Homo sapiens: one gene and its partners. The protein of the gene in region 1 purifies or fractionates together with the protein of each later gene. This does not show direct contact. Each region holds a gene or a part of one and is shown in the gene's direction. Other genes may lie near its edges.

The links.
Region 2: the proteins of KLHDC8A (region 1) and LONP1 purify together in Homo sapiens (affinity purification with mass spectrometry; 2 studies listed by BioGRID and IntAct, with this or other methods). This does not show direct contact.
Region 3: the proteins of KLHDC8A (region 1) and CCT6B purify together in Homo sapiens (affinity purification with mass spectrometry; 2 studies listed by BioGRID and IntAct, with this or other methods). This does not show direct contact.
Region 4: the proteins of KLHDC8A (region 1) and TXNDC9 purify together in Homo sapiens (affinity purification with mass spectrometry; 2 studies listed by BioGRID and IntAct, with this or other methods). This does not show direct contact.

Annotation. Positions count from the first base shown.
Region 1 is NC_000001.11:205,335,658-205,342,159, reverse strand, and holds the end of KLHDC8A (kelch domain-containing protein 8A), read left to right. Parts: intron 1-2,351; coding exon 2,352-2,516; intron 2,517-2,750; coding exon 2,751-2,966; intron 2,967-3,563; coding exon 3,564-3,665; intron 3,666-4,567; coding exon 4,568-4,761; 3' UTR 4,762-6,099; downstream 6,100-6,502.
Region 2 is NC_000019.10:5,695,620-5,703,440, reverse strand, and holds part of LONP1 (lon protease homolog, mitochondrial isoform 1 precursor), read left to right. Parts: intron 1-2,513; coding exon 2,514-2,652; intron 2,653-4,235; coding exon 4,236-4,414; intron 4,415-6,683; coding exon 6,684-6,771; intron 6,772-7,069; coding exon 7,070-7,192; intron 7,193-7,270; coding exon 7,271-7,387; intron 7,388-7,821. UniProt on the Homo sapiens protein: ATP-dependent serine protease that mediates the selective degradation of misfolded, unassembled or oxidatively damaged polypeptides as well as certain short-lived regulatory proteins in the mitochondrial matrix.
Region 3 is NC_000017.11:34,949,149-34,956,969, reverse strand, and holds part of CCT6B (T-complex protein 1 subunit zeta-2), read left to right. Parts: intron 1-2,370; coding exon 2,371-2,544; intron 2,545-4,916; coding exon 4,917-5,020; intron 5,021-7,821. UniProt on the Homo sapiens protein: Component of the chaperonin-containing T-complex (TRiC), a molecular chaperone complex that assists the folding of proteins upon ATP hydrolysis.
Region 4 is NC_000002.12:99,326,626-99,334,446, reverse strand, and holds part of TXNDC9 (thioredoxin domain-containing protein 9), read left to right. Parts: intron 1-1,204; 5' UTR 1,205-1,236; coding exon 1,237-1,425; intron 1,426-6,793; coding exon 6,794-6,912; intron 6,913-7,821. UniProt on the Homo sapiens protein: Significantly diminishes the chaperonin TCP1 complex ATPase activity, thus negatively impacts protein folding, including that of actin or tubulin.

The DNA of each region.
Region 1 (6,502 bases):
GTGTAAGGCCCAAAGAGTTAGTTAAAACACTGGCCCAAGGTGACACAGATAGTGATGATTGAGTCTGTGCTCTTACTATGGCACTGAATGGGTTCTGCAGTTAGTTTAATAAGCATTTACATGCCTGTGTGCCAGGCATTGTGCCAGATGCTGGGGCTGTAGATTTAACAAATTCTCAACGGCCTACAGTCTATTGAAAGAAACAAAGATTGGCCGGGCGCGGTGGCTCACGCCTGTAATCCCAGCATTTTGGGAGGCTGAGGCGGGCGGATCATGAGGTCAGGAGATCAAGACCATCCCAGCTAACATGGTGAAACCCGTCTCTACTAAAAATATAAAAAATTAGCCTGGCACAGTGGCGGGCGCCTGTAGTCCCAGCTACTCGGGAGGCTGAGGCAGGAGAATGGCGTGAACCTGGGAGGCAGAGCTTGCAGTGAGCCGAGATCGCGCCACTGCACTCCAGCCTGGGTGACAGAGCAAGACTCCGTATCAAAAAAAAAAAGAAAAAGAAACAAAGATTATTCAGTAACAGGTGGCAATTAGGGTGATGGAATAGGGTAACAGAAGGCACTGAGCCGGTGCTGTCGACCCAGGCTTGTAGTTCAGGGACGCCCAGATGGGTCTGAAAGGATGAGTAAGAATTGGGCACAAAAACAGTAGTGAGGAGTGGATGGGAGGATTCCCAGGAGGAGGAGTTTCAAGTAACACAGGATGGGAGGGGTGGATCTTGTGCAAGGTGAATTCCTCATTAGCAGGCACCGTCTTCCAGCCTCAGGCTAGGGTTGGCATTTTTTTTTTTTCCAATAAGATTGGAAAGTAGGAGGAAATAGTACTCATCCCTACAATCACCTTAAGAATAAAGGCCTCCTGGAGCCAGAAGCATTGAGGACTGGCTGCTGGCAGACAGAATCCCGGGCAGGGGTGGCTCCCTGAGAAAGAGAGGCCTGGGAGGTCCTGGGGTGGGACCCAGGGAAACACAGATGCCTTGCCCATCCTCTCTGGTGTAGTGAAGTCCTTTGAAAGGCCACCTACAGTCAAGAGTAGTAGAGAATGAGAGGAGACTCACTTCTCAAAGTATCCCAGCTCACTTCCTGGGCAGGGTTTCTTAAAGGGACCAGTACTCTCTCCAAAGCTTCACCCTCATTCACCCCTAGCCCTATCTCATTTAGTTGAAGTGACTCCTGGATCCCACAAGTTTCCCAATTTGTGAAGGAAGATGGCATTCCCCAATGGGGCTGGCAGACACAGAACCAGCAGCAGTCCAGTGTCCCATAGGCCAGTGACAGCATGACTCATCTTATTTCTAAAGGCCCCTGCCATATCTAAAAATGCCAGTTTGTGAATGCCTGGGGAAAGGGCATCAGAAGAATATCTCTACTCATTGAAGCCAGGCGTGGTGGCTCATGCCTGTATTCTCAACACTTTGGGAGGCCAAGGCAGGTGGATCACCTGAGGTCAGGAGTTTGAGACCAGCCTGGCCAACACGGTGAAACCCCGTCTCTACTAAAAATACCAGGTGTGGTGGCAGGCATCTGTAATCCCAGCTACTCTGGAGGCTGAGGCAGGAGAATCGCTTGAACCCGAGAGGCAGAGGTTGCAGTGAGCTGAGATCACACCATTGCACTCCAGCCTGGGCAACAAAACAAGACTCTGTCTCAAAAAAAAAAGAATACCTCTCCTCTTTGGCTTCCCCTCTGGCTGCCCAGGGAGGACAGTGAAGGGGATAAGACCTGCAAAGGGTTTTCCAGGCCTAAACTTCACGCAGTGTTTCAGGCTTAGCCAAAGGGCTGGACACTAAGGAAGACTAGGGCGTGTAGTCGTACCATGGCTTCAAAAGACCCAGGCAGCTGGGCACAGTCGCTCACACCTGCAATCCCAGCACTTTGGAAGGTCGAGGCAAGAGGATTGCTTGAGCCCCGGAGTTCGAGACCAGCCTGGGCAACATGACAAAACCCTGTCTCTACAAAAAATACAAAAATTAGTCAGGTGTGGTGGCATGGACCTGTAGTCCCAGCTACTTGGGAGGCTGAGATGGGAAGATCTCTTGAGCCCAGGAGGTCAAGGTTGCAGTGAACCATGATTATGCCACACTCCAGCCTGGATGACAGAATGAGACCATATCTAAAAAAATAATAATAATAAAAATAAAAAAAAAGAAACAGACTCTCAGGCTTAGCTATAGCAGGAACTTCTTTGAATGGTGCTATCAACCACACTGATACAGATATGACTCACTCTGGCTGAGCAGTGGTTGAAAGCTTGGCCTGGCCATGGGAGGCAATAGATGCTGGTGGGCCTGTCTTGCTGTACCTGTGAGCTAAGCCAGGGGCATGTATGGCCTTTCTTCTTAGATTACCGAGTATATGCGGCAGGCGGGATGGGCCTGGACCTACGTCCACACAACCACCTCCAACACTATGACATGCTGAAGGACATGTGGGTGTCCCTAGCACCCATGCCCACCCCGAGATATGCTGCCACCTCCTTCCTCCGAGGCTCCAAGATCTACGTGCTGGGTAAGGACAGGTTACTGTTCTATACCTACCCTCCTTCCTTCCCTTGGCTCAGTTCCCATAGGAAGCAGTGCCTGTGTGCTGAGCATCTCCTCGGCACTGGGGATAATCACACTGCCCAGCCCACCGGGAGCTTCCTGTATGAATGAGTAACTGTCAAAAGGGGAAACCCTTTTCACTGTCGCTGTCCTCAGGGACAACCCTTCTGCCCAACCTCTATCCTGCTCTGGCCCCCAGGGGGACGACAGTCCAAGTACGCGGTCAACGCTTTCGAGGTCTTTGACATCGAGACTCGCTCCTGGACCAAGTTTCCCAACATTCCCTATAAGCGGGCCTTCTCCAGCTTTGTGACCCTGGACAACCACTTGTACAGCCTAGGAGGCCTGCGGCAAGGTCGCCTCTACCGGCAGCCCAAGTTCCTGCGGACGATGGACGTGTTCGACATGGAACAGGGTGAGCTGGTCACCTTCCCCAGGAAGCTCTGGCTGCCCACTGCCCTTCTGGCTGGCTCCCCATCCCTTACCCCTATTCCAGCCATCTTCCAGGGCCGTTTACCCAGCTGGGCAAGCTTCTCAGAAGTCTCAGCACCCCTCTCCACTCAGGGCTACTCTTGGAATCAAATTCCTTCATTGGTATAGGTCCCCTTTTTGCTTGGTTGGTTTTTATCAAAGCCCCTTTTCTACCTATATTGTCTTTTCTTACAATATTCACACAGGACCAGGTCAGAGAGGGATTTTTCTTACTTTTTACTGATGGAGAAACAGAAGGATCCTGACTCCTCCCTCACTGCCTCTATTAGCCTCCTAACCAGAAGTCAAGGTGATTCATTGTAGGGGATGATGATGCCTTACAGAGCAGCAAGCATGGGAGAGGGGGAAGCCACAGAGAATTTGAAACAGCAGGAGGAACTGTGTACTCCCCAAGCATAAAGGATAAATAGAGTGAAGACACTGCCCAGGGTGAAAGCTATTTGGGCCACAATCTGCATTTGGTGGGAGTGGTCTGTATCTTATTCTGTCTATATAACCCACCATTATCCATGGCCTATAGGGGGATGGCTGAAGATGGAACGATCGTTCTTCCTCAAGAAGCGGCGGGCAGATTTTGTGGCTGGCTCTCTGAGTGGACGGGTCATAGTGGCTGGGGGACTTGGTAAGGATGGCGCTTTCACGCTGGAATTTATTGTGGTTCTGGTGCTCAGTGGATCCTTGGCACTTTGCATATGCAGGAAAGGGTACTGACTCCCTGCAGACCACCTGCCTACCACTATACTCCAAAAAATTCGAAGCACTCCCTTTCTTCCAGCCTAGATATTACCTATCCACTGTGGGCCCCAGGTGTGGCCTTTCTGTCCTCCTACACAGGGAAACTGTGACGCAGAGAGAATAAGGGACACCCGTAGCCGTGCAGCACAGGCTTACTGAGCACAGATCCCTAAACGGGAATGACTGGAGACAAACTGTGGAGGGGATTAGCCTTGGTCCTCCTCTGACCAGTCTCTTATCCTGTTCCAGCCCAATCGTGGAACAGGAAAGCAATCTGATTAAATAAGTTCAACAGATGAATCTTGGGTTTGATGTATTAACTCTGCCAGAGATTACTAGTATTTTGAAGGAGGGACTCTAAAGCGAGAAGTTCCCCATCATCAAGGAAGAGAGATCCAGGCAGCAGGGCTTCCAGGTACCCCAAGTCTACTTAGTGTGGACAAACTCCCACTTTACTCAGGCATGAAGGAACCGTGTCAACTAGACCATGTCAGTAGCTTTTTTAGGAAAGGGCAGCAGTGAGGCAGTAGTGTGCTAGAAAGCTCTGGTAAAAAGCAATGGGTAGGGAAAGAAAGCTTACTCTTAAAGAGACAGGAAGACGGTAGGAGGGACAAAGTGGCTGCTTGACAAAAGCCACTGGCTTAGTAAAGGGAGTAATCCTGTAGCCAAGGAAGTTGACCTTGCTTGGCTTCTGCTTGTGGGTGCCGAAGGGAGGGAGGTGGGGTGACCGTGGGGCATGGATTGGTGGTTGGACTCCTTTGTAAGGTCTGATTCCCTTGACACTTTCAGGGAATCAACCCACTGTCCTGGAGACGGCGGAAGCATTCCACCCAGGGAAGAACAAATGGGAGATCCTCCCTGCCATGCCCACACCCCGCTGTGCCTGCTCCAGCATAGTCGTCAAGAACTGCCTCCTCGCCGTGGGAGGTGTCAACCAGGGTCTGAGTGACGCAGTGGAGGCCCTGTGTGTCTCTGACTCCTAGCTGTCTCTGGGCTCAGTACCTTTGCCCTGGACCATATCACTTCACTCTTAACATGAGGAATGATCTTGTCCAAGCAGTCGGGGCTACTTCCAAGAATGTCAGCTCCTGTTAGCAACCAGTGGAGTCTGGCCTTGGGGCTCTAAGTTGACCTCTCTATAGCTCCAAATCCTACCAATCTCAGAAAACTGTAAGAGGCACAGATGACTCCACCAGCTGCAGAGCTGACTCTGAAGAGAGTCTTCACTTACTGCACAGGCAAAGAAAGGCACAGGAATATTTCCTACCTCTCCCTCCTGTGAGTCCCACCTCCCCCCACCCCCATCTCCAGGAGGCAGGTAGAGCAGTTCTGACCGAGAGGATAGACTGCTGTTGCTGTCTTTCCCCAGCTCTGAACTAGTTTTAAGGTAGCTTAGGATGAAAAATGGAGAATGATTGGGGGTTCCAAACCACTTTCTTCTCCCTTGGCTTATATCTCTTCACCATTTGGTGGTCAACTGTGGGCCTACCCTGGACCTCATCTACTCAGCGAGAATTGGACATGAAGCTAGAGGCAGCTGCCTTGGAAGGGAAGTCAGGCTCACTTGGACAGCCCAGGCCATGGCAGGAAGAATCCCTTCCTCTTGGGGTCCTTGATGGGCATGTGTGATGGGGAAGGAGCAGTCTCCCAGCCCTGGGTCTGCTCCCCACATCTCTCCTAATTCCACTTCACCTTTTGCCACCCCCTCCCCACCAGAGGCCTAGCCCTTTTGTCACCGAAGGCCCCCAGAGTGTTTCTGTGTGAAACCCTCTCATTTACACTGTGGCATCAAAATCCACAAAAGATGGATTAATTGCACTCTGGTTAATAGCAGCAGCACAATGATTAAAATCTATATTCCTATCTTCTCTAGCACCCTGGTGTGGGGATGGGGCGGAAGGGTGTCTTGAGGGGCAGGGAGGACCCCATAAAACAATCCCTCCTGCATTCTCAGGCTAAATAGGGCCCCCAGTGACTACCTGTTCTTGGCTGTCCCCTCTGAAGAGCTCTGCCTTCTCACAGCCACCACCAGTTGCCCCACTCCCAGGAAAACAGCACATGTTCTTCTTCTCCTGCCTTGAGACTGCGTGTTAGTCTTCCATTCATAACTCATCAGCAGCTCAGTCCTTCTTATGTCTAGTCTCAGTTCATTCAGCCAAAGCTCATTTTTGTCCTATCCAAAGTAGAAAGGGTTCTTTTAGAAAACTTGAAGAATGTGCCTCCTCTTAGCATCTGTTTCTGACTCCCAGTTATTTTTAAAATAAATGATGAATAAAATGCCTGCCCTGAAGGGTTCTGGAGGAGTCAGGTATCACTCATCAGGTGATAGTGTAATTCTTTCTCCAGGAGGCAGGAATGGAGGAGGATCACCTATCTGGATCTGAGGGGTCCAGGGAGCCTCCTGGAGGGAGGGAGTGTGACACCTTCAGCGGGATCTTCAAGGACAAGTGGAACCTGGGTCTTTACAGGATACGGATTTTTTTCCCCTCCCTTTCTCTGGGTACTTGGACTTTTTCCTTACTTGGGTCCAAGAAGGGCACTGCCACCTGCTGGCCCAGCATTTCCCTTCCCCCTCCCAGGGCTGGGAGGCCTCCCGTAGCCGCTGCTGCCCCCTAGTGAGGAGACTGCAGAGAGGCCTCCCCTGCTGCTTCTGGATCCCTATATTTGAGTTCAGCCCCTGAAGTAACAGATAGAAACAGGAGCTGGAGGAGCTGCAGATACTAT
Region 2 (7,821 bases), on another chromosome or scaffold:
ATGGAGTTGCCCTCCCAACCTTCAGCGTCACTCTCCCGGCAGGGGACCTGGCCTCCATTTCCCCACCTGCCCTGGGTCAGGCCTTGTCCCATTTTCTAAGCCTCGTCCCCTCTGTGGTTCTGCTCACTCAGCCCTGGGCAGAAGCCAGTGCCGTCTTGGCTCTCCTGATGAGTCAGCAGTGGACCTCCGGCCATCTCCTCCTTCCTGCACTGGGTGCTTTGGACAGGGCAGTTTGTAAATTTTTTTTTTTTTTTTTTTTTGAGATGGAGTCTCACTCTGTTGCCCAGGCTGGAGTGCAGTGGCACGATCTCGGCTCACTGCAAGCTCCGCCTCTCGGGTTCATGCCATTCTCCTGCCTCAGCCTCCCGAGTAGCTGGAACTACAGGTGTCCGCTGCCACGCCCAGCTAATTTTTTTTTTTTTTTTTATTGATCATTCTTGGGTGTTTCTCGCAGAGGGGGATTTGGCAGGGTCATAGGACAATAGTGGAGGGAGGGTCAGCAGATAAACAAGTGAACAAGGGTCTCTGGTTTTCCTAGGCAGAGGACCCTGCGGCCTTCCGCAGTGTTTGTGTCCCTGGGTACTTGAGATTAGGGAGTGGTGATGACTCTTAACCAGCATGCTGCCTTCAAGCATCTGTTTAACAAAGCACATCTTGCACCGCCCTTAATCCATTTAACCCTGAGTGGACACAGCACATGTTTCAGAGAGCACAGGGTTGGGGGTAAGGTCACCGATCAACAGGATCCCAAGGCAGAAGAATTTTTCTTAGTACAGAACAAAATGAAAAGTCTCTCATGTCTACTTCTTTCTACACAGACACGGCAACCATCCGATTTCTCAATCCTTTCCCCCTTTTCTATTCCACAAAACTGCCATTGTCATCATGGCCCGTTCTCAATGAGCTGTTGGGTACACCTCCCAGATGGGGCGGCTGGCCGGGCGGGGGGCTGACCCCCACTCCTCCCTCCCAGAGGGGGCGGCTGGCCAGGCAGAGGGGCTCCTCACTTCCCAGTAGGGGCGGCCGGGCAGAGGCGCCCCTCACCTCCCGGACGGGGCGGCTGGCCGGGCGGGGGGCTGACCCCCCCACCTCCCTCCCGGACGGGGCGGCTGGCTGGGCGGGGGGCTGACGCCTCCACCTCCCTCCCGGATGGGGCAGCTGGCCTGGTGGGGGGCTGACCCCCCCCCCAACCTCCCTCCCAGACGGGGCGGCTAGCCGGGCGGGGGGCTGACCCCCACTCCTCCCTCCCGGAGGGGGCGGCTGGCCGGGCAGAGGGGCTCCTCACTTCCCAGTAGGGGCGGCCGGGCAGAGGCGCCCCTCACCTCCCGGACGGGGCGGCTGGCCGGGTGGGGGGCTGACCCCCCCACCTCCCTCCCGGACGGGGTGGCTGCTGGGCGGAGACGCTCCTCACTTCTCAGACGGGTCGGTTGCCAGGCAGAGGGTCTCCTCACTTCTCAGGGCTGCCGGGCAGAGACGCTCTTCCCCTCCCAGACGGGGTCGCGGCCGGGCAGAGGCGCTCCTCATATCCCAGACAGGGCGGCGGGGCAGAGGCGCTCCCCACATCTCAGATGATGGGCGGCCGGGCAGAGACGCTCCTCACCTTCCAGACTGGGCAGCCAGGCAGAGGGGCTCCTCACATCCCAGACGATGGGCGGCCAGGCAGAGACGCTCCTCACTTCCCAGACAGGGTGGCGGCCGGGCAGAGGCTGCAATCTCGGCACTTTGGGAGGCTAAGGCAGGCGGCTGGGAGGTGGAGGTTGTAGCGAGCCGAGATCACGCCACTGCACTCCAGCCTGGGCACCATTGAGCACTGAGTGAACGAGACTCCGTCTGCAATCCCGGCACCTCGGGAGGCCGAGGCCGGCGGACCACTCGCGGTTAGGACCTGGAGACCAGCCCGGCCAACACAGTGAAACCCCGTCTCCACCAAAAAAATAGGAAAACCAGTCAGGCGTGGCGGCGCGCGCCTGCAATCGCAGGCACTCGGCAGGCTCAGGCAGGAGAACCAGGCAGGGAGGTTGCAGTGAGCCAAGATGGCAGCACACAGTCCAGCCTCGGCTCGGCATCAGAGGGAGACCATGGAAAGAGGGAAAGGGGAGACCGTGGAAAGGGGAGAGGCAGAGGGCAGAGGCAGAGGCAGAAGCATTTTTTGTATTTTTAGTAGAGACAGGGTTTCACCGTGCTAGCCAGGATGGTCTCGATCTCCTGACCTTGTGATCCGCCTGCCTCGGCCTCCCAAAATTCTGGGATTACAGGCGTGAGCCACTGTGCCTGGCCTGTAAATTGTTTTATAGAGATGGGGTCTTGCTGAGTTGCTCAGGCTGGTCTTGAACTCCTGGGCTCAAGTGATCCTCCCACCTGGGCCTCCCAAAGAGCTGGGATTACAGGCGTGAGCCACCGCGCTCAGCCCCACACATGGGTTTCAAGCCCCTTGCAACCACCCAGCCAAGTCCAGCAGAGAGACAGGCAGCTCGTGAGCTCCACTCAGCATCTCTCCATCTGTCCCCTGGCAGTGTCACCCGCAACTACCTAGACTGGCTCACGTCCATCCCTTGGGGCAAGTACAGCAACGAGAACCTGGACCTGGCGCGGGCACAGGCAGTGCTGGAGGAAGACCACTACGGCATGGAGGACGTCAAGAAACGCATCCTGGTGAGCCCAGTGTCTGGCCTGTTGTGGATTTGCATGTGGGTGCCCGGGCCCAGGACTCTTGTGTGCTGTGGGTTGAGATTTCAAAGGAGCCCCCTGGTGAATTCGTAGGCCTGGGGGTGCTGGTCGGGGGGATCCCGGCGGAGGTAGCATCCTGCCCTGCCCCCGAGGGCTCGAGGATTTCCCAGGTGGACTGAAGTCATGCCTGACGGGCCGGGCATGGTGGGGCTGCTTGTAGTCCCAGTTACTCAGGAGGCTGAGGCGGGAGGATCACTTGAGCCCAGGAAGTTGAGGCTGTGGTGAGCTGTGATCATGCCACTGCACATCAGGTTGGGTGACAGAGTGAGACCCCCATCTCTACAAAAAATTTTAAAATTGCGGCTGGGCGCTGTGGCTCATGCCTGTAATCCCAGCACTTTGGGAGGCTGAGGCATGCAGATCACCTGAGGTCGGGAGTTGAAGACCAGCCTGACCAACATGGAGAAACCCCATCTATACTAAAAATACAAAATTAGTTAGGCGTGGTGGCGCATGCCTGTAATCCCAGCTACTTGGGAGGCTGAGGCAGGAGAATCGCTTGAACCCAGGAGCCAGAGGTTGCAGTGAGCCCAGATCGTGCCATTGCACTCCAGCCTGGGCAACAAGAGTGAAACTCCGTCTCAAAAAGGAAAAAAAATTTTTTTTAATTAGCCTGGTGTGATGTTGCGTGTCTGCAGTCCCAGCTACTTGGGAGGCTGAGGTGGGAGGACTGCTTGAGCCCGGGAGGTGGAGGCTGCAGTGAGCTGTGATGCACCACTACACTCCAGCCTGGGTGACAGAGCGAGACCTTGTCTGAAAATTAATTAATTTTAAATTAATTTTTAAAATATCACTCCTGAGACATTGGAAACCAGGCAGGCAGGTGGGAGTCAAAGGTTAAAAAACAGGAGTCAGAGCCTGGGCATGGTGGCTCACACCTGTAATCCCAGCACTTGGGGAGGCCGAGGCGGGTGGATCACAAGGTCAGGAGTTCGAGACCAGCCTGACCAACATGGTGAAACCTCGCCTCTACTAAAAATACAAAAAAAGTAGCCAGGCATGGTGACTCACACCTGTAATCCCAGCTACTCAGGAGGCTGAGGCAGGAGAATTGCTTGAACCCAGGAGGCTGAGGTTGCAGTGAGATGAGATCGCACCAGTACACTCTAGCCTGGGCCACAGAGCAAGACTCCATCTCAAAAAAAAAAAAAAAAAAAACAGGAGCCAGAGGCATTGGTGGACTGCTTCTCTGGGTTGGACCGGAGAGAGTGGAGCATTTGCGGTCTTCAGGGTCCCGGGAACTGCTGAACGGGCCTGGCACTGCCGGGTGGCCGCGGTCTCCTAGCACCTAGTTGTCCTTTGGTGTTAAATTGTTAAATGGAGCCCTTGTCACAGGCTGCCCCTCCCCGTGGCCAGTGGCAGCTCTGATGTGCTCAGCCTCCCGGACAATCCTGGTCCCTTCTCGCAGCCCTCAGACGTCTGAAAGGCAGTGTGCAGGTGGCGAGAGTCATGCGCGGGTCCCCGGCTTCCCCAGCTCACGTGCCCACTGAACCTGCCTCTGTCTGCAGGAGTTCATTGCCGTTAGCCAGCTCCGCGGCTCCACCCAGGGCAAGATCCTCTGCTTCTATGGCCCCCCTGGCGTGGGTAAGACCAGCATTGCTCGCTCCATCGCCCGCGCCCTGAACCGAGAGTACTTCCGCTTCAGCGTCGGGGGCATGACTGACGTGGCTGAGATCAAGGGCCACAGGTAGGCCTGGCCTGACAGCTCTCCCCACGCACTCCCCTCAGCTGTGCTGCCGGGCTTCGTCTTCTCCGGTCACCCTTTAACATCTGGTAGAGCAATCCGGGTTGTGGGCAACCGATTCCACTCATGCTGGAGTAACTGAAAAGTCCAGCCATGTGGCGGACTTCAGGCCCAGCTGATTCCAGGTGCTCAAACAGCGCTGGCAGGAACCTCCATGGCTTGACCCCTGGGAGAGAGACTTCTCGGGCCGGCCCTCAGCAGACACCCCCGGTAGTTCCAGCATAGGACCTGCAATGCCCGGGCCAGAGCTGCAGGGCCGGCGTTTGCCGTGCAGATGCTGGTCTATGTGGGCTGTGGCTGATGCCCCAGGACTAGGGGTGGGGTCGGCTCCACCCCCCACCCCGAAGCCTGTGGGCTGGAGTCAGGAGAGACGGTCTCCAGTGAGGACCGGGCCGCGCACACCAGAGAAACCTTGGCGCCTCTGTGGGCTCACTCGTCCCGGCCAGCCTCAGGCCCAGAAGCAGGGGCCACGGCCCTCAGAGTTCAGCGCCCTCCCACCTGACCCTTTGGGTGGGCAGCCGGGCGCGGCTTTTCTGGGGCTTCCCTCCTCGCCAGCCTCTGTAGACAGCGGTTCTTTGGAAACCGTAGCCTCAGTGAGAGCCGAGTGTGAGGCATCTGCTGAGTCCACCACGTGTTTCCATCCTGCAAGGCATTCACTTGAGTCCAGGTTTAAAGTGAACATTTCTGCCTTCTCTAAAAACATCCCCAGCTCCCGACCTCCCGGCTCAGGCCTTCCTAGCATCTGCCCGCCCGCTGCAAGGGTGACAGCATGCTGGCCCGCGCAGTGTCCAGTCCCCAGGGGGCGGCCACTCTGACCAGCCGGGAGTTGGGAGGAGCTGGAGGAGGTGGGGCCAGTGCAGCTTTGGGGAGTCCCAGATTGACTAGGGGGTGGGGGGTGTGAGGGGGAGGACAGGGGACCTGTTCTGCAGGCCCTTGGTTGGGCTGGGGTCTGAGCAGGAAGGAGCAGCTGGGTGAAGGTGGAGGGGTGGGGGTGGGGGGCACCCAGTCCTTCCTGGGCAAGCGGTTTGAAGTGGTCGCGAAGCCTCTTGGAGCCTGGTTCAGGGATGGCTGGAGGTGCGGGCCGGAGGAGAGACCCTGGCGGGGTTCTGAACAAGCCTGGGTCACCTCTGGCCTTGGGAGGGAGTCACCAGGTAGCGGGGCTGCGGGGAGGGCAGGCGTCTGCTGACGTCTCTGGGTTCCTGAGACAAGGACAAGGACAGGAGACTGGCTGCGGGGCGATGGATCGTTGTTATTAACAGCAGCAAAACCCTCCTTTGCCCCCAGCTCTCCAGGGCTCCCACGTTCCTCGGTCAAAGCCCAAGTTCTCACTGCAGCCCACAGGACCCCGCATGACCTGCCCCACCCCCTCCTCTCTCTCCCTCTCTTCTTCCTCCCCCTCCCTCTACCCCCTTCCCTCTCCATCTCCTCCCTCTTCCCCCTCTCCTCCCTCTTCTCTCCCCCCCTCCTCCCTCTGCCTCAGCCTCATGGCCTCCTCACTGTTCTTCTAACACACCAGGCGTGGTCCTGTTTCAGGGCCTTTGCACGGGCTGTGTCCTGGGCCTGGAACACATCTCTCAGACCCTCACGTGGCTCTCTCCTCACGTGCGTTGCTCGGGGCCTCTCCCTAAGACACTCCTTACCCCCCTGCACACTTAAAGTGTCACACACATCCCAGTGGCATCTCAGTCCCTCCATCCCTGCCTCCCTGTGTCTTCATCCCACAGACAGAGCCTTCCTCACTGTCTCTCGTGGGGCCTGGGATTCTTCTGTCCCTGTCGCGGGCCGGGCCCCTGTGCTGGGGCAGAGCACAGAGCTTGCAGGAAGCCCTCCTGAGAGCCAGTGCTGGCCATGGCTAGTATCACCCCAGCCCTTGAGGGCTGAGGCGTGCCTGGCGTCCCTCAGTGAGGAGTGGGGGCCTTCTGCTGCCAGCGCCTGTCTGGCTTTCACCATGGTGTCAGCTGAGGGATGGGACTGAGGGAGATCTGGCTTTGAATCAGTGACCCCAGAATCTGAGCTGGCGAGTCAGGGCAAGTGACCAGCGTGCCTGCAGGTGCCACACATCCGGCGGCTGCCAGCATTTCCGCCTCCCACATCATGGCCACATCTTGTGGGGCTCCAGGTGGCCTCTCCCCTGTGGCCCTGGAGGGTGCATGGTGTCGTTGTGGCCGAGCCAGGCTACCAAGTGACCTCTGACCCCGCTGTGCACCCACAGGCGGACCTACGTGGGCGCCATGCCCGGGAAGATCATCCAGTGTTTGAAGAAGACCAAGACGGAGAACCCCCTGATCCTCATCGACGAGGTGCGTGCGGAGAGGCCCGGAGACCCCCTAACCCGGCAATGCCGTGTGCAAGATGAAGCCGAGCCTTCCGGGTCCTAGGATCCCCGAGCCAACTCAGGGGCCATCGCCGTGATGCTGGCCCTGATGGCACGGACGGGTCCCTCCCACCCACAGCCACGCCCAGCAGGCTGCCCGTCCAAGGCAGGGTGTGGGTGCCGCTCTCACTCGGGGTCTCCCCAGCCCTGACCCTGGGGTCTCCCCACTGGGCGGGCTGGCCAGGGGCACGGCGAGGGGCACCACCTGCTGTCTGCTGCCCCAGGTGGACAAGATCGGCCGAGGCTACCAGGGGGACCCGTCGTCGGCACTGCTGGAGCTGCTGGACCCAGAGCAGAATGCCAACTTCCTGGACCACTACCTGGACGTGCCCGTGGACTTGTCCAAGGTGGGGGGCCTGTCTGGGGCCTGGGCTTGCTGGGGAGGGTAAGCGGCCAGTCCCCCAGCACCTTGCCGCCGCCCCCAGGTGCTGTTCATCTGCACGGCCAACGTCACGGACACCATCCCCGAGCCGCTGCGAGACCGTATGGAGATGATCAACGTGTCGGGCTACGTGGCCCAGGAGAAGCTGGCCATTGCGGAGGTAAGCCCAGCCCCTCCCCACTGCTGTCCCCTTCCCAGAGCAGGGGGCGCCCCCCAGAGCCTGCAGAGGCCGTGCCTCTGGGAGCTCCTGGGCCCGGGAGAGACAGGTGGGACCTGCGGCCGAGGAGCAGATGGGGCCGTGAGAGACACACCAGACGCTTGCGAGCAGCTGCAGGTGGCGCGAGTGGGCGCAGGGTTTAGGGCCTGGGACTGTCCAAAACACCGCCCACCACCGTCAGGCCACACACTCTGTCTCCCGGGGCCTCCAGGCTGCCCCATGGTGGGGCCCCCACCTGGCCCAGAGTGTAGGGAAGGTTTCTGGCAGCCGGAAGCAGTGGGGCCTGTGGCTCCCACCCAGAATGAGGCTTGGAGGAGAAGTGGTTTCAGTGAGGAGCATGCAGGGGCCCATATTTCTCATGTGTTTTTTTTTCTGCA
Region 3 (7,821 bases), on another chromosome or scaffold:
GCTTGGTGGCATGCTGCATGTGGTCCTGGCTACTTGGGAGGCTGAGGCAGGAGGATTGCCTGAACCCAGGAGGTGGAGGCCGCAGTAAGCCATGATTGCACCAGTGTACTCCAGCCTGGGTGACAGAGTGAGACCCAGTCTCTAAAAGAAAGAGAGAGAGAGAAGAGAGGAGAGAGGAGAGAGAGGACAGAGGAGAGCGAAGAAAGACTGTCAGAGGAAATTAGGCAGAGGGCAAGATAAAGCCATTCAGGAGGCTTTTCTTTAGTATGATTGGGCCAACTTTAGTATTATGTCCATCCCAAGCCAGTAACAGTTTTTATGGGAATTGACTTAGACTAATCAGGATCCACTCCTTGAGCTGGGGATAAGATCAGCTTTCTCCAAAGCACAAGTGGGAGAGGGAAACCCAAACTGAATTAGGGTTGGGTTAGGAAGAAAGGAGTTTGGCAAGGGTGAGATGCTAACAGACATTATGAAACTCTGTGGTGGTGCAGTGATAGAGCCGGGCACAGTATATGATGGAATCACTGAGGCTGGAGGGACGTCCTAAACTAGCCTGAAGTAGTCAGGAAGAACTCTCTGGAGGAAGTAAGGCCTGGCCTAAATCTTCAGGATGAGGAGGAGTGAACCAGACAAAAGAGCAAGGGGTGAGGAGAATGGCTTTCCAGGCAGAAGGAACAACATAAGCAAAGTCACAGAGAAGACAAGCAACATGGTGTTGTATGAAGCTACAAGCATTTTGGTGTTGCTGGAATTTCAGGTGATGTGAACAGTAGTGGAGAAGAGGCTGGAGAGGGAAGTGGGAGCCAGATCAGAGGGCATGTAGTATGCTAACCAAGAAGCTTAGATTTCATCCAGTGGTATTACAGACCAAACATAGAAACATACTAATGACTGATATGGTCAGGTTGGCATTTTAAGTATTTGGGGGATGGTTTTAAGGGAGTCTAGACCAGAGGTTTTCATGATAGTCTGGATGAGAGATTGTGGGGTCCTAGCTTGAAGACATTTTTGAAAATGGTTAATAACATAGGCTCTAAAGTCAGGTCTCATGGGTTTAAACAACCTGGTTTCACTTCTTATTATCTTGGTGATCTAAGGCAAATTACATTATCCCTTTAAGCCTCGGTCTTCTCATCTGTGAAATAGGAAAAATAATAATAATAATACCCACTTCATGATGTGGCTAGAGAATTAAATAACTTGTGTAAAACTCTTAGTCATGTCCAGCACAAATACTCAATGTCAACTTTTAAAGATTATTAAGGATTGATGTAAAGAAAAGTAGTAAGGGAATGAATTAGACCAAGTGCTAGCTTTCACAAAGTTTGTGTATTATTTTATGGAACAAAAAATACTATTAAAATATTTTTTCATAATTTTAGACCTATAGAAAAGTTGCAAACATACTACAAAGAATTCCTGTATACTTTTTACCCAGATTCTTCAAGCATTTTCATTTCTCTCATTGCCTGCTTGCCCTGTTCTCTTCCTTAGTATCAGTGTACTTATTCTTTTCTAAACTGTATGTTGCAGACATGATCTAAATATTTCAGTGTATATTTCTTAAAACCAGGGAATTATATAATTGCAGTATAGTTATAAAAACCAGGAAATTAATAATAACATTAACACATTGATACATTACTGTTATCTAATCTGCATTCTATTCAAACTTCACCACTTATATTAATAGTGCTCTTTATAGAAAAAAAAGATCTAAGTTCATGCATTGCACTCAGTTGTCGTGTTCCTTTAGTATCCTTTAAGCTAGACTAGTTCCTGAGCTGCCTTTTATGCTTCATGATATTGCTACTTTTAAGCCATTTATTTTGTAGAAAGTCCCTCAGTGTGGATTTGCCTATTTCCTCAATTAAACTTAGGTTACAGATTGTTGGCCAAAATACCATAGAACTGTTGTGTTCTACTGAATGCATCATGTCAGCAGGCATGTGATGCCTGTCTGTCTCATTATTGTGATGTTAACTTTGATCACTTGGTGAAGTGGTAGACACCACAGTGTTCTATCTGCCACTTTTCCCCAATTCAGTGGTGGTTCTTTTCCTCTGCATTGAAAGGAATCTTTTTATGTGTGCCCATTCAGAAGGGCACCACATAACAACAATGTAGTCATAATTTTTGGAAATAAAAAGGACTTCTGTAATTTTTAATACTAGACTTGAAGCCTTACTGTTAAGGTTGAGATTATTTCAAGTATGAAGCACTAAAATGACTTTTATAAATTATGTACACTTATATTTCATGGCATTAATGTGAGTAACTTTTTTTGAACATAATAATCAGACAGGTTGGTTACTTTTACATTGGGTGACTTATTTTATAATTTATAATTTTATGTTGATGTAACAGGGCCTGCACCCTAGAATAATAGCTGAAGGATTTGAAGCTGCAAAGATAAAAGCACTTGAAGTTTTGGAGGAAGTTAAAGTGACAAAGGAGATGAAAAGAAAAATCCTCTTAGATGTAGCTAGAACATCATTACAAACTAAAGTTCATGCTGAACTGGCTGATGTCTTAACAGAGGTATGTTATTAAACTTTTGCATTCAGAACAAATATAGCCTAATGCATGGTGATATTTTTCTTTTTCTGTAAGATAATCAAGTATTTCATGTGGTTTTTTGGGCATAAAATATGGAAGACAGACAATTATTGTATAGGCCTAACTGTAGATTAGATTTGACTGGTCAGAACAGTATTTGTAATTTTCAGAAGTATCATACTAGGCCTTTTTTTAAACGTGACTTGAAAGGTGGGAGAGGTTTGGCTGCCTGCAGATCATCTCCTGTGGAAGCTCTTGAATAGTATACTGGTCTTTTTAAATCTAGCAGTCCATATTTTATTATGTGAGGTGACACACAAGATAGTTGTTTTAGCAGTGTACCTTGTAGATAAGGTTACCAATATAATGAAATGTGATATGATATATTAATATATTAATATTCACATATTGGAAATGTATGTTTGTTTAGTTTATTTCTTTTATTAATTTATTTGAGACAGAGTCTTACTCTGTCACTCAGGCTGGAGTGCAGTGTCATGATCTCAGCTCACTGCAACCCCCGTCTCCCAGGTTCAAACGATTCTCCTACATCAGCCTCCCGAGTAGCTGGGATTACAGGCGCGTGCCACCACGCCTGGCTAATTTCTGTATTTTTAGTAGAGATGGGGTCTCACTATGTTACCAAAGCTTGTCTTGAACTCCTGACCTCAAATGATACACCCACCTCGGGCTTCCAAAGTGCTGGGATTACAGGCATGAAGTCACCACATCTGGCCAGTGTTTTGTTTATTTCTAAAGGTAGAATATATGTTATATAGGCTGGGCATGGTGGCTCATGCTTGTAATCCCAGCACTTTAGGAGGCCGAGGTGGGGAGACGACCTGAGGTCAGGAGTTTGAGACCAGCCTGGCCAACATGGTGAAATCCTGTCTGTACTCAAAATACAAAAATTAGCTGGGCATGTTAGCAGGCACCTGTAATCCCAGCTACTTGGGAGGCTAAGGCAGGAGAATCACTCTGGGAGGGAGGGGGAGGTTGCAGTGAGCTGACATCATGCCATTGCACTCTAGCCTGGGTGACAGAGTGAAACTTTGTCTCAAAAAAATATATATATATATATATATATATTTTATATAAAGACAAGATTGGCTGGATATTTTGGGAAGGCTTTTATCAGGTGGCAATGATTTGATATCATTATTGTTTTTCAGCTTTGTAATTTCTGAAACTTGAATATATTTGTTTACCAGGAAGAATGATAAATTCTTAGGAAACAAATTCACAAGACATTGACATACAAAGCAGAATACTACCTTAATAATTTACTTTGAGAACTACAAATGCCAAATGTACTGGAATACTTGAGTTGTTTCTGATCGATTCTCCTTACCGTTAAAAAAAAACAACTTGGGAAATCAGATTAAGATCAGACAATTTCTTGATGAGCAGAGTCAGAAGAAAGGCTCTGCTGTGTTTTCTGCTGTTAGAGTACTTGAATGGCCCCAAATCTTCATGCTGCTAGGGCACCCATTCTGTTTTAGAGTTACAGAAACAGTGATATTCTCACTATCCAATGGCCTTTGTCCTATTTCTTATTTGCCTCTAAAATAAAATATTATGTCACCTCAGGCAAAGTTTTCTAAGATACAGTTTTTTCTGCTTTATGTATATTTTAGGGTAGTTATAACTTAGCCCTTAATTTCTGCAGTTATTTATTATTTTTATATCATTTTCTGAGCTAAGCAATAAGACGTGTTGTGCTATGCTTCTTAAATTGTATATCCCTGGTCATATGTGACAGAATAAATGAGACGTAGCTTTCTGGAGTGTCAATTTTACTTTACAATTTTGGGGGAAAACATTATTTTTACATTGAGATAAACATATTATGGGATGACATGGAAACTTTTCACGATAAAACATGAGACTTTAACGTTTCCTGTTATTACAGCCAGCAAATTGGAGCTATTACCTTAGATTACCTTTCCTTCTTTTCCATTAAGGTGTCCTTTGGTGGAAAAGTTTGGATAGTCTTGGTATGATAGAAAGAGTAGTCGCTGGGCAGTTAGGGAGCCCTGAATTCTAGTCCCGGCCCTGTTACTAGCTGTTAGATCTTATTTAAAAACTGTGACTTCTTAAGGTCTTATCTCAGTTGCCTTATCTGTAAAATAAAAGGTTTGGACCTAATGATCTCTGAAGTTTCTTTAGACTCTAAAGTGTCTGTTGGCATTGGCTATTGTTAGCATCCATAGTAAAGTGGCACATATTGGTCTTGCCCTAGGTTTTGAATCCTGAAGGCTTTTATCTCCTTAGTCTGGTGATAGATTGTTTGGGCCCTTGGTTTATTTTAGTAGTCCAAATAACTTAACTGTTCTCATTCATTTCTCTTTCAGGTTGTGGTGGATTCTGTTTTGGCTGTTAGAAGACCAGGTTACCCTATTGATCTCTTCATGGTAGAAATAATGGAGATGAAGCATAAATTAGGAACAGATACAAAGTAAATTACATAAGCTTTGACAACATATGGGTTCTAGAATTTTTTAAAGATATTCTTTTATTAAATTCATTACTTACTTTTATTCAACATAAATATATTCATTCACCATATATTAAGTCACTGCTCTAGGTAATGGGAATGAGAGTAAACAGAACAGAATTTCTTTCCCCAAGAAGTTTATGTTTCTAATTGAAATAGAAAAAAAATCATGTGTGTGATTTTATAGTGGACAGGGAAGACTACTCTGATAAGAACCTGGAGAGCTAAGAGGTCTCTGAAGAAACAAGGGAGCTAGCCATGTGCACATCTGGAATAAGAGGGTTCTAAGCAGAAGGAATGACCTCTGAAAGGGTCCTGAGGCAGAAGTGTGACTAGGTTGTTACAGTGTGCCTGGAGCACAGGGAGAGGAGGTGAGGCAAAAGGGACCAGATTATGGAGTACCATGTTGATTTTGGATTTACTCTTTTAAAACTTTGTATTATAGAAAACTGTGAACATATATAGAGAGAACAGAATAGGGAATTTCCACATAACTGTTAGCTATCTTTATCAATTTCTAACATATGAAGCATACCCTTCCCTCTTTCCCCCTCCCACCTAGGATTATTTTGAAGCAAATCCAGACATCATATACCACCTGTAAATATCATATAATCCATAAAACATAAACCCCCTGCTTTTACCTAATATATCCACAAAACATTATAACACCTTAAAAATGAATAACTCATTAATACTATCACATTTCCAGTTTATAGTCTAATTTGTCTAACAGTTGTCTCAGATTTTTTTCAGTTTTGTTTGGATTAAGATCTACGCACAGTCTGTATAGTGCACTTAGGTGATATCTCTTTTAGTCTCTGTTAATTTGTTAATTTGTAGGTTCTTTCTTCCTCTCATTGTTTTTCACCTTGATAATTATTTTGGAAAAGTCTGATTATTTGTCTTGAAGAGTTTTTGTGGGAAGATTTTTGATTACTCATGCAATTTTCTTCTTCTTCTTCTTCTTTTTTTTTTTTTTGAGATGGAGTCTCACTCTGTCCCCCAGGCTGGAGTGCAATGGCGTGATCTTGGCTCACTGCAACCTCCGCCTACTGGGTTCAAGTGATTCCCCTGCCTCAGCCTTCTGAGTAGCTGGGACTACAGGTGTGTGGCACCACGCCTGCCTAATTTTTTGTATTTTAGTAGAGACGGGGTTTCACCATGTTGGCCAGGCTGGTCTCGAACTCCTCACCTTGTGATCCACCCGCCTCGGCCTTCCAAAGTGCTGGGATTAAAGGCGTGAGCCACCACGCCCGGCCCCACTCATGCAATTTTCTTAATGGCTATAGGACTAATTAGGTTTTCTACTTATTTTTTGAATCATTTTGGTAAGTAATGTTTTCTTAGAAATTTGTCCATTTTGTTTAACTCTGAAATTTTTGGTATAAAGTGTTCATAAATATCCTTACTGGCATAAAATTTTTATAAGGATCCTGTTTGCAGGATCTGTAGTGGTATCACCATTTATTTCTGGTGTTATTTATGCCTTTCTTTCCTTGTTGTGATAATTTTTTCCCAGAGGTTTGTTTTCATTTCACAGTGTCTTTCTCTTTATTATTTAATTTACTTTTTTGGAATTTTGTGGGGACTTTTTTGCTGCTTCTGTTTTATTGTGATAGCTACTTAGGTTATTAATTTTCAGTCTCCTGCTTTTGAATACAGTACTTAAGACCTTAAATTTTTCTCAAAGTACTATTCAGCTGCATCCTTCAAGTTTTGATATGTAATCTTATGATTTTTATTCAGTTTAAAATATTTTCTAATTTCAACTAGAAGTGTGTTTCTTAACATGGGGAAATTTTAGTTATCTTATTACTGATACCTAGCTTAATTACATTGTGGTCAGAGAATATGCTCTATGAGATTTTTGCTCCTTTGAAATTTGTTGACACTTGCTTTATGGCTCAGTGTATAGTCAGCTTTTGTTATGTTAATGTTTCATGTACTTGAAAAGAATGTATGCTGCAGTTGGTAGGTACAATTTTATATACATGTCCATTAAGATCAAGGTATCCTGTTAATCCTGTTGTTCAGAACTTCTATATCCTTATTGATGTTTTGACTGCTTATTCTGTCAATTACTGAGTGAAATGTATAAATATCTTTCAATATTATTTTGTACCTGTTTATATTTTACTTTAGTTTTGAGAGTTTTGCTTTATATATCTTGAGACAATCTTTTTAGATGCATAGTTTTTAAACTGTTACATATTTTCTGGTGCATTGAACTTTTGTACTGATATGAAGTGACTTTTTTCTAGTAATGTCTTTAAAAGTATAATTTATCTGATATTGATAATTATATTTAAAAAATCTTTACATGTTAAAAGCTGTTGTACCAGCTAGCTAGCTTCCTTCCTTCCTGCCTTCCTTCCTTCCTTTCCCTCCCTCCCTCCCTCCTTCCTTCTTCCCTCCCTCCCTTTCCTTTCCTTTCTTTTTTTTTTTTTGAGATGGTGTTTCTCTCTTGTTGCCTAGGCTGTAGTGCAATGGTGTGATCTCGACTCACCGCAACCTCTGCCTCCCAGGTTCAAGCAATTCTTCTGCCTCGGCCTCCCTAGTAGCTGGGATTATAGGCATGCGCCATCGTGCCCAGCTAATTTTGTATTTTTTTTTTAGTAGAGATGGGGTTTCTCCATGTTGGTCCGGCTGGTCTTGAACTCCCGACCTCAGGCGATCCGCCCACCTCTGCCTCCCAAAGTGCTGGGATTGTAGGCATGAGCCACCGTGCTCGGCCTTTTCTTTTCTTTTCTATGATTTTC
Region 4 (7,821 bases), on another chromosome or scaffold:
CTATAATGTTTGAAACAATATCAAAATCACCTAATGATGCATTTCTCAGAATGTATTCTCATTGTTTTGTGGGTTTTTGGTTTTTGGTTTTTGAGACAGGGTCTGGCTCTGTTGCCCAGGGTGGGGTGCAAGTGGTGCGTTCTCAGCCCACTGCAACCTCTGCCTCCTGGGCTCAAGGTATCCTCCTCCCACTTCAGCCTCCCTAGTAGCGGGGACTACAGGCACACACCACCGGGCCTGGCCAATTTTTCTATTTTTAGTAGAGACAGGGTTCCATCATGTTTCCCAGGCTGGTCTCAAACATCTGAACTCAAGTGATCTGCCCACCTTGGCCTCCCAAAGTGCTGGGATTACAGGCGTGAGCCATAGCACCCAGCCTAGAATATATTCCCATTGTTAAGTGATGCATGACTAATTGAGATAGGTCTTCCTTTCTAATCTGAATTAGTTCTATTTTGAAACTCTGATTTTACACAGAGGAGTGATGTTGGAAAAAAACCCAAAATTTAGAAAAGTATTTGGAGTGTTTTACATCAAAGTTAACACTGTCAGTAAATGGAAACCAGTATTAATTTTTGTGACCTCATAGACTTTTTTGTTAGGTAATGGGAGAACAGGAATGGACATTAATGCTCAGGGAACACCAGGCACTCTTCTTTACATAAATGGTAATGAGACGTCTTAGGAGTTAAATGAAACTCATTTGGGCAGCAGCCATGAAAAAAATCTGTGTTTTGCTCAACTGTACTCTGTGTTTAAGTAAAGTTTAATATATATATTTATGTGTAAAACCTCAGTAGGTATACCTTCCTATTGTTCGCAGTTGTTTCTGATTTCTCTTTCCCATTGGTAAAGAACACTGATTGTCAGTATATATCACTAGGTATAACTTCACAACTCATTTCTCTGTGGTTTGGTGATGGTCTTAAAGACTTGTCTTGGCTTTAGTATAGTAAAACATATGCTAAATCAGAAGCACCCTAAATTTGCTGTAAGTAGTTTTTGAGTGGTGTGACTAGAACCTACTGAGAATTAAATTTAAAAACACATAAAAATTGTTAAGCCCAGCATCAAGTGCTTGGATGTCGTTAGAATACTCCATAGAGTACACATTATACACTTGCCAGAATTTTTGAAAATGGTAGAGAAAACCTTGCTTATTGTTTGCATTTTTTAAAATGTATTTTGTAAATCTTCTCCCCAGCACCCAGGCTGAACTCTGTACCATTTGGAAGAATGGAAGCTGATGCATCTGTTGACATGTTTTCCAAAGTCCTGGAGCATCAGCTGCTTCAGACTACCAAACTGGTGGAAGAACATTTGGATTCTGAAATTCAAAAACTGGATCAGATGGATGAGGATGAATTGGAACGCCTTAAAGAAAAGAGACTCCAGGCACTAAGGAAAGCTCAACAGCAGAAACAAGTAACCTCTCTGCCCTGCTTTCTGAAATTGCTATAACAGTATGCGCCTAACAACTTATATATACATGTGCTGTAGTAGTTACATTTCGTTCTTTGTGTTTAGGGTTTTTAAAATTCAGAATACCTATTACTGTTAAAAATTTGCCCAGAAAAAAATATGTTTTAAAGACATTCAAAATTAGCCCAATCTCTATATTAATCCACAGTCGAGTAAAAGAAAGATCTGCCCAAGATCGTTTTTCTGAGCTTGGATTTGTTTGGTTGAATGGAGGGCTAGGGAGTCATTGGTTTCCATTTCAGGTAATATTAAAGCCGATTTAGCTATTTTCAAAGCAAACGAGATAAGACAGATGAGATAAGAGCAATTAAGTCAATTTATGTTGAAAAATGTATTTCAGGCATTTCCAATGAAATAATTATGTGGCATATTCAAAAGAATGCATGCTTTGTAACAAAGGTGGCCACAGCTCTATCGTTGTTGCCTCTTAGAATGTTTGTGTAGAATAAACGCAGAGTTGTAAACTCTGACTGAAACCAGTGGATTAAATTCTGTAAATTGAAATTTTTTTTTCTGCTTTTTGAGATGGAGTCTCGCTGTGACACCCTGGCTGGAGTACAGTGGTGTCATCTCAACTCACTGCAACCTCCGCTTCCCGGCTTCAAGCAATTATTCTGCCTCAGCCACCCGAGTAGCTGGGACTACAGGCGCACACCACCATGCCTGGCTAAGTTTTGTATTTTTAGTAGAGATGGGGTTTCGCCATGTTGGCTAGGCTGCCCTTGAACTTCTGACCTCAAGTGATCCGCCCACCTTAGCCTGCCAAAGTGATGGGATTACAAGCGTGAGCTACCGCACCTGGCCAAATTGAATTTTGATTAAAACATTTTTTCCACTGGGTTACATGGAAATACTTTATCACCAACTCTGGTTCCTTTTCAGTTGACTGTGACTTAAACATGAGGCTTAACTTTTCTGAAGAAATAGGGAGTTTTGACCGGGCATGGTGGTTCACATCTGTAATCCCAACACTTTGGGAGTCCAAGGTGAGCGGACAACCTGAGGTCGGGAGTTCAATACCAGCCTGGCCAACATGGTGAAACCCTGTCTCTACAAAAAATACAAAAATTAGCCAGGTGTGGTGGCGCACACCTGTAGTCCCAGCTACTCAGGAGGCTGAGGCAGGAGAATCTCTTGAACCCGGGAGGTGGAGGTTGCCGTGAGTCGAGATTGTGCTACTGCACTCCAGCCTGGATGATAGAGCAAGACCCAGTTCCCCCACAAAAAAAGAGAAGGAGTTTTGTTTGTATTGCTGTAGCATCACTTTGATATGTTTACACCCTCATGTTTAGAAGAGTTACTACAAAAGGAAATAATCTTTTATAAGTGAGTCCAAATTTTTATATTTTGAGTTTCTAAAATAGAGTACGTTATATGGCTTTTACCTGTACCCTACCGTATTTTAAAAAATAGGCTGCTTTTCTTTTTCTTTTCTTTCTTTTTTTTTTTTTTTTTGAGAGGGAGTCTCACTCTGTTGCCCATCCTGCCTTGACCTCTCAAGTAGCTGGGATTACAGGTGCCTGCCACCATGCCCAGCTGATTTTTGTACTTTAGTAGAGATGGGGTTTCATCATGTTGGTCAGGCTGGTCTCAAATTCCGACCTCAAATGATCCGCCTGCCTCAGCCTCCCAAAGTGCTGGGATTACAGGTGTGAGCCACCCCACACCAGGCCCAATTGGCTTCTTTTCATAGTATAGGGCTGATAATTAGTATGCAAAGGACGGATTATTGGAATTTAAGGTAATATATGTTTAGGTTCTGCCACAAACTCATATTTCATAGTCACATTTAAGTACTAATTGCTAATGTGCAACTAAAAATAATTATTTGTAACTAGGATATTTTTGTAGAGAGACTGAATTCACCTGATTTGCAGTGATGAACATACGTTAAATAATGTCTTAAAGGAACTTTTTGGCAGTTCAAAACAGTGGTCTGAATATAATTAAAACCAACTAAGGCAGACTGGCTATAAGCCTTTTTTATTATTAATGTATAAATCAATTTAAAATGAATTTGTCATCGAGTAATTCAGAGGGTCTTATTTTAGAACTTTCACTGCATTTTAGTAGGTCTTTTATTAAAATATTTTCTGGAAATAGTCAAGAAACCTAGTGATTTGTATAGATATTCTTTTTATAAGAGATTATACAGTAATTAGATTATGCAGTAATTTTGATTTTCTGATCCACGAGGGTATTGGGGAGATCATTGTATGCATTGACTTACAGTCGGCACTTAATAGACCTAGGTGAATCTATATTCTTCTGTCAGCCAAGCACCCTCCTACTGTTAACTAGAGCTGGCACACTTAGGTAGGGAGCAGAATAGAGGGATAAGGTAAGAAATAGGAGTTAAGCAGAGGCTTGGGTGACAGCCACTGACAGCCAGGTGCTGCCCAGCTGCCATGCCTCAGGTAGGCCCATCCTGCTTGATTCTGTTCTGCAGATACCTTAGGAGCACATGCTGTCCAAAAGGGGCTATGCTAAGAGCACAGGGGTGTAGTGAATGTGTCAGGAGAGGCCCTGAGCATTGGTAGAGGTTTGGAATGGGCACATCCTCCCTCAAAGGAGCCCAGGACAGGTTCGGGTCTTCAGCCTCTTGGTTAAATACCTGAGAATAAATAATGAAAAGAAATAGCAGCTTTTTTTTTTTTTTTTTTTTTTTTTTTTTGAGATAAGAGTCTTGCTCTGTTGCCCCGGCTGGAGTGCAGTGGCACAATCTCGGCTCACTGCAACCTCCACCTCCCAGGATCAAGCAATTCTTCTGCCTCAGCCTCCCAAGTAGCTGGGATTACAGACGCCTGCCACCATGCCCGGCTAATTTTTGTATTTTTAGTAGAGGTGGGGTTTCGCCATGTTGGCCAGGCTGGTCTTGAACTCCTGACCTCAGGTGATCCGCCCACCTCAGCCTCCCAAAGTGCTAGTATTACAGGCGTGAGCCACTGCGCCCGGCCTAGAAATAGCAGCTTTTTAAAAGACAAATACTTTTTTTTTTGAGACAGGGTCTTGCTCTGTCACCCAGGCTGGAGTGCAGTGGTGTGATCTTGGCTCACTGCAACCTCCGCCTTCGGAGTTCAAGCAATTATTGTGCCTCAGCCCCCGAGGAGCTGGGATTACAGGTGTGTGCCAACACACCTGGCTAATTTTCATATTTTTTGTAGAGACAGGGTTTCGCCGTGTTGCCCAGGCTGTTCTCAAACTCCTGTCCTCAAGTGATCCACCTGCCTCAGCCTCCCAAAGTGCTGAGATTACAGGTGTGAGCCACTGCGTCCAGCCTAACAAATACTTTTTAAGGGCACATATCATTGGTAAGTTGTGAAAGCAGTCATGAAATGTCATATGTCATTAGGGAATTGTATTTGAGAGTTAAACTGTGTGTAGAAATTTCACATAAGAAAATATCAGGGTATCCTGCAAGTGTCAGCTCGATGTAAATGGATGTGATTTTGACACCGCAGTCATCAATATAGTCTGGGCCACGTTCACTGACGTCCAGAGGAGGAAGGGAGATGGCCCTCCTGGCTCTTTGGTTGGACCCCTTCTGGAGGCTGGATTCAGACCTCTGTCACATTTTAAGAAGACATTGGTGAATTAGAGTGTGTTTAGTTGATATCCTGGAAGAGTAGGAACTCTAGAAATCTTTTCATATGAGAACAGTTAAAAGGAACTGGAAGTGTTCAGTGTGGAGAAGGGAAAACTTAGGCAATATGTGATGTTTGAAGGGCCCACGTGGGAAAGAGATTAAAACTTTAATCTTTATCCAAGCTGGAATCCACAGACCAGAATTATGGATATATTGCAGTTCAGTGTGAGATGACCTTTCTAACAATTAGTGCAGGTATAGAGACTTTTTAAGCATTTATAAAGTGGTTATCAAAAGCAGACAGGGCTCTTGAGCTTCAGAGCTGCAGTATCCTCCTTTTCTCCCCAAGACGAATTGGGTTTATCTCATAAGCATTATTTTTATTTTTATTTATTTTTGAGACAGAGTCTCACTCTGTTGCCCAGGCAGTGGCGTGATCTCAGCTCACTGCAACCTCTGCCTCCTGGGTTCAAGCAATTCTCCTGCCTCAGCCTCCCAAGTAGCTGGGATTACAGGCGCCTACCACCACAGCTAGGTAATTTCTTGTATTTTTTTTTTTTTTTTAAGTAGAGACGGGGTTTCACCATGTTGGCGAGGCTAGTCTGGAACTCCTGACCTCAGGTGATCCAGCCGCCTCAGCCTCCCAAGGTGCTGGGATTACAGGCATCAGCCACTGCACCCAGCCTCATGAGCATTATTTTTAAAAGACTTGTAGTAACTTGGATCAAATGCTTCTGGTTTTAGTAGTTTAAGAGTACATGGATAGAGTTAAGTGGATATTTACATTCTGAGTCTCTCAAGTCTAAATTTTTATTTTGAAAGTTCTGAGAAAATAGATGTTTTAAGCTACAAAGACAGGTAATTGTCTTGAACCCAGGCCATGCTGTGGAGACGTTCACTGTCCGTAGACTAGTTTTGCATTGACAGTAGAAACAGGAAAGTAAATTGCTAAAAAACATTCATTTTTCTTTGACTTCAGCCAGGCACAGTGGCTCATGCCTATAACCCCAGCACTTTTGGAGGACAAGGTGGGAGGATTGCTTGAACCGAGGAGTTTGACACCAGCCTGGGCGATATAGTAAAAACCCCGTCTCTACCAAAAAAAAAAAAAAAAAATGCCAGGCGTGGTGTGGCATGCGCCAGTGGTCCCAATTCCTTGGGAGACTGACGTAGGAGGATCTCTTGAGCCCAGGAGGTTTGAGGCTGCAGTGAGCTATGATCATGCCACCACACTCCATCCTGGGCAACTTTAGCAAGACCCATTCTCAAAAAAAAAATAAATAAATAACACTTTTGGGCCGGGCGCGGTGGCTCACACCTATAATCCCAGCACTTTGGGAAGCCGAGGCAGGCGGATCACAAGGTCAAGAGATCGAGACCATCCTGGCCAACATGGTGAAAACCCATCTCTGCTAAAAATACAAAAAGTAGCTGGACATACTGGTGCCCGCCTGTAGTCCCAGCTACTCGGGAGGCTGAAGCAGGAGAATTGCTTGAACCCAGGAGGCGGAGGTTGCAGTGAGCCAAGATCGCGCCACTGCCCTCCAGCCTGGTGACAGAGCAAGACTCCGTCTCAAAAAAAAAAAACAAAAACAAACAAAAAAAAAACTTTTTTTTTTAATTGACTTCATTACAAAATACGATGGTGATTTGGACACTTAAAATGTCAAGTGGTTCTGAAAGAGATATCTCACATGTGTAATGTTTTGCCTCTCTCCAAATTAGGAATGGCTTTCTAAAGGACATGGGGAATACAGAGAAATCCCTAGTGAAAGAGACTTTTTTCAAGAAGTCAAGGAGAGTGAAAATGTGGTTTGCCATTTCTACAGAGACTCCACATTCAGGTAACTTTGTTTCCATCTGTGACTTTTTCTAAAAAAACACAGTGAATTGTTTGGCTGGAGATATACTGGCTTACTAGAGAAATGAAGAAAACTAAAAGAAAAAACTTCCTAAGTTGTTTCATTGTACTCTCTCATATGTTATTTAGTATTAAGTTAAGCAGGCAGGGGCCCAGTGACTCAAGCCTGCAATCTCAGCACTTTGGGAGGCCAAGTGGGGGGTGGATCACTTGAGGTCAGGAGTTCAAGACCAGCCTGGCCAACATGGCGAAACCCTGCCTCTACTAAAACTACAAAATTAGCCGGGTGTGGTGGCAGGTACCTGTAGTCTCAGCTACTGGGGAGGCTGAGGTGGGAGAATTGCTTGAACCCAGGAGACAGAGGTTGCAGTGAGCGGAGATCGCGACACTGCACTTCAGCTCGAGCGATAGAGTGAGACTCCATCTCAAAAAAGAAAGAAAAAAAAAGTTAATTGTTATTTTAAAGAGTAACTTAAAGAACAGTTACATGCAAAAGTATAAATGAATATTACTGAAAGTCAATATTCCCATATAAATGGCTTATATTTTTGAATTGTATTTTCACTAGCTAACTAAAAACATCTTAGAAATGTACACTTAAAATTCTTATCACCATGACAGTAATTATTTCCCTCTAGTATTGTGATGTAGCCATGATATTGGGAACGGGCAACAGCTGTTGAGAGTCAGTGTTCCTTCAGTTCCTCCTTGAAGGAACTAGCAACTGTGGTGGGGAGATGGTGGCTTGGCCAAACCTTTCACCAGAGCAGAGTTGGGACTGCCAGTCTTGGCTAGAAGGAGAAGTGATTTTTCTTAGACCACCCTAGGTCTCCAAATTTCTCTAAGGAAGCAGATCTCTTATAAAATGTTAATACCTCCTCAGAAGAGGTCA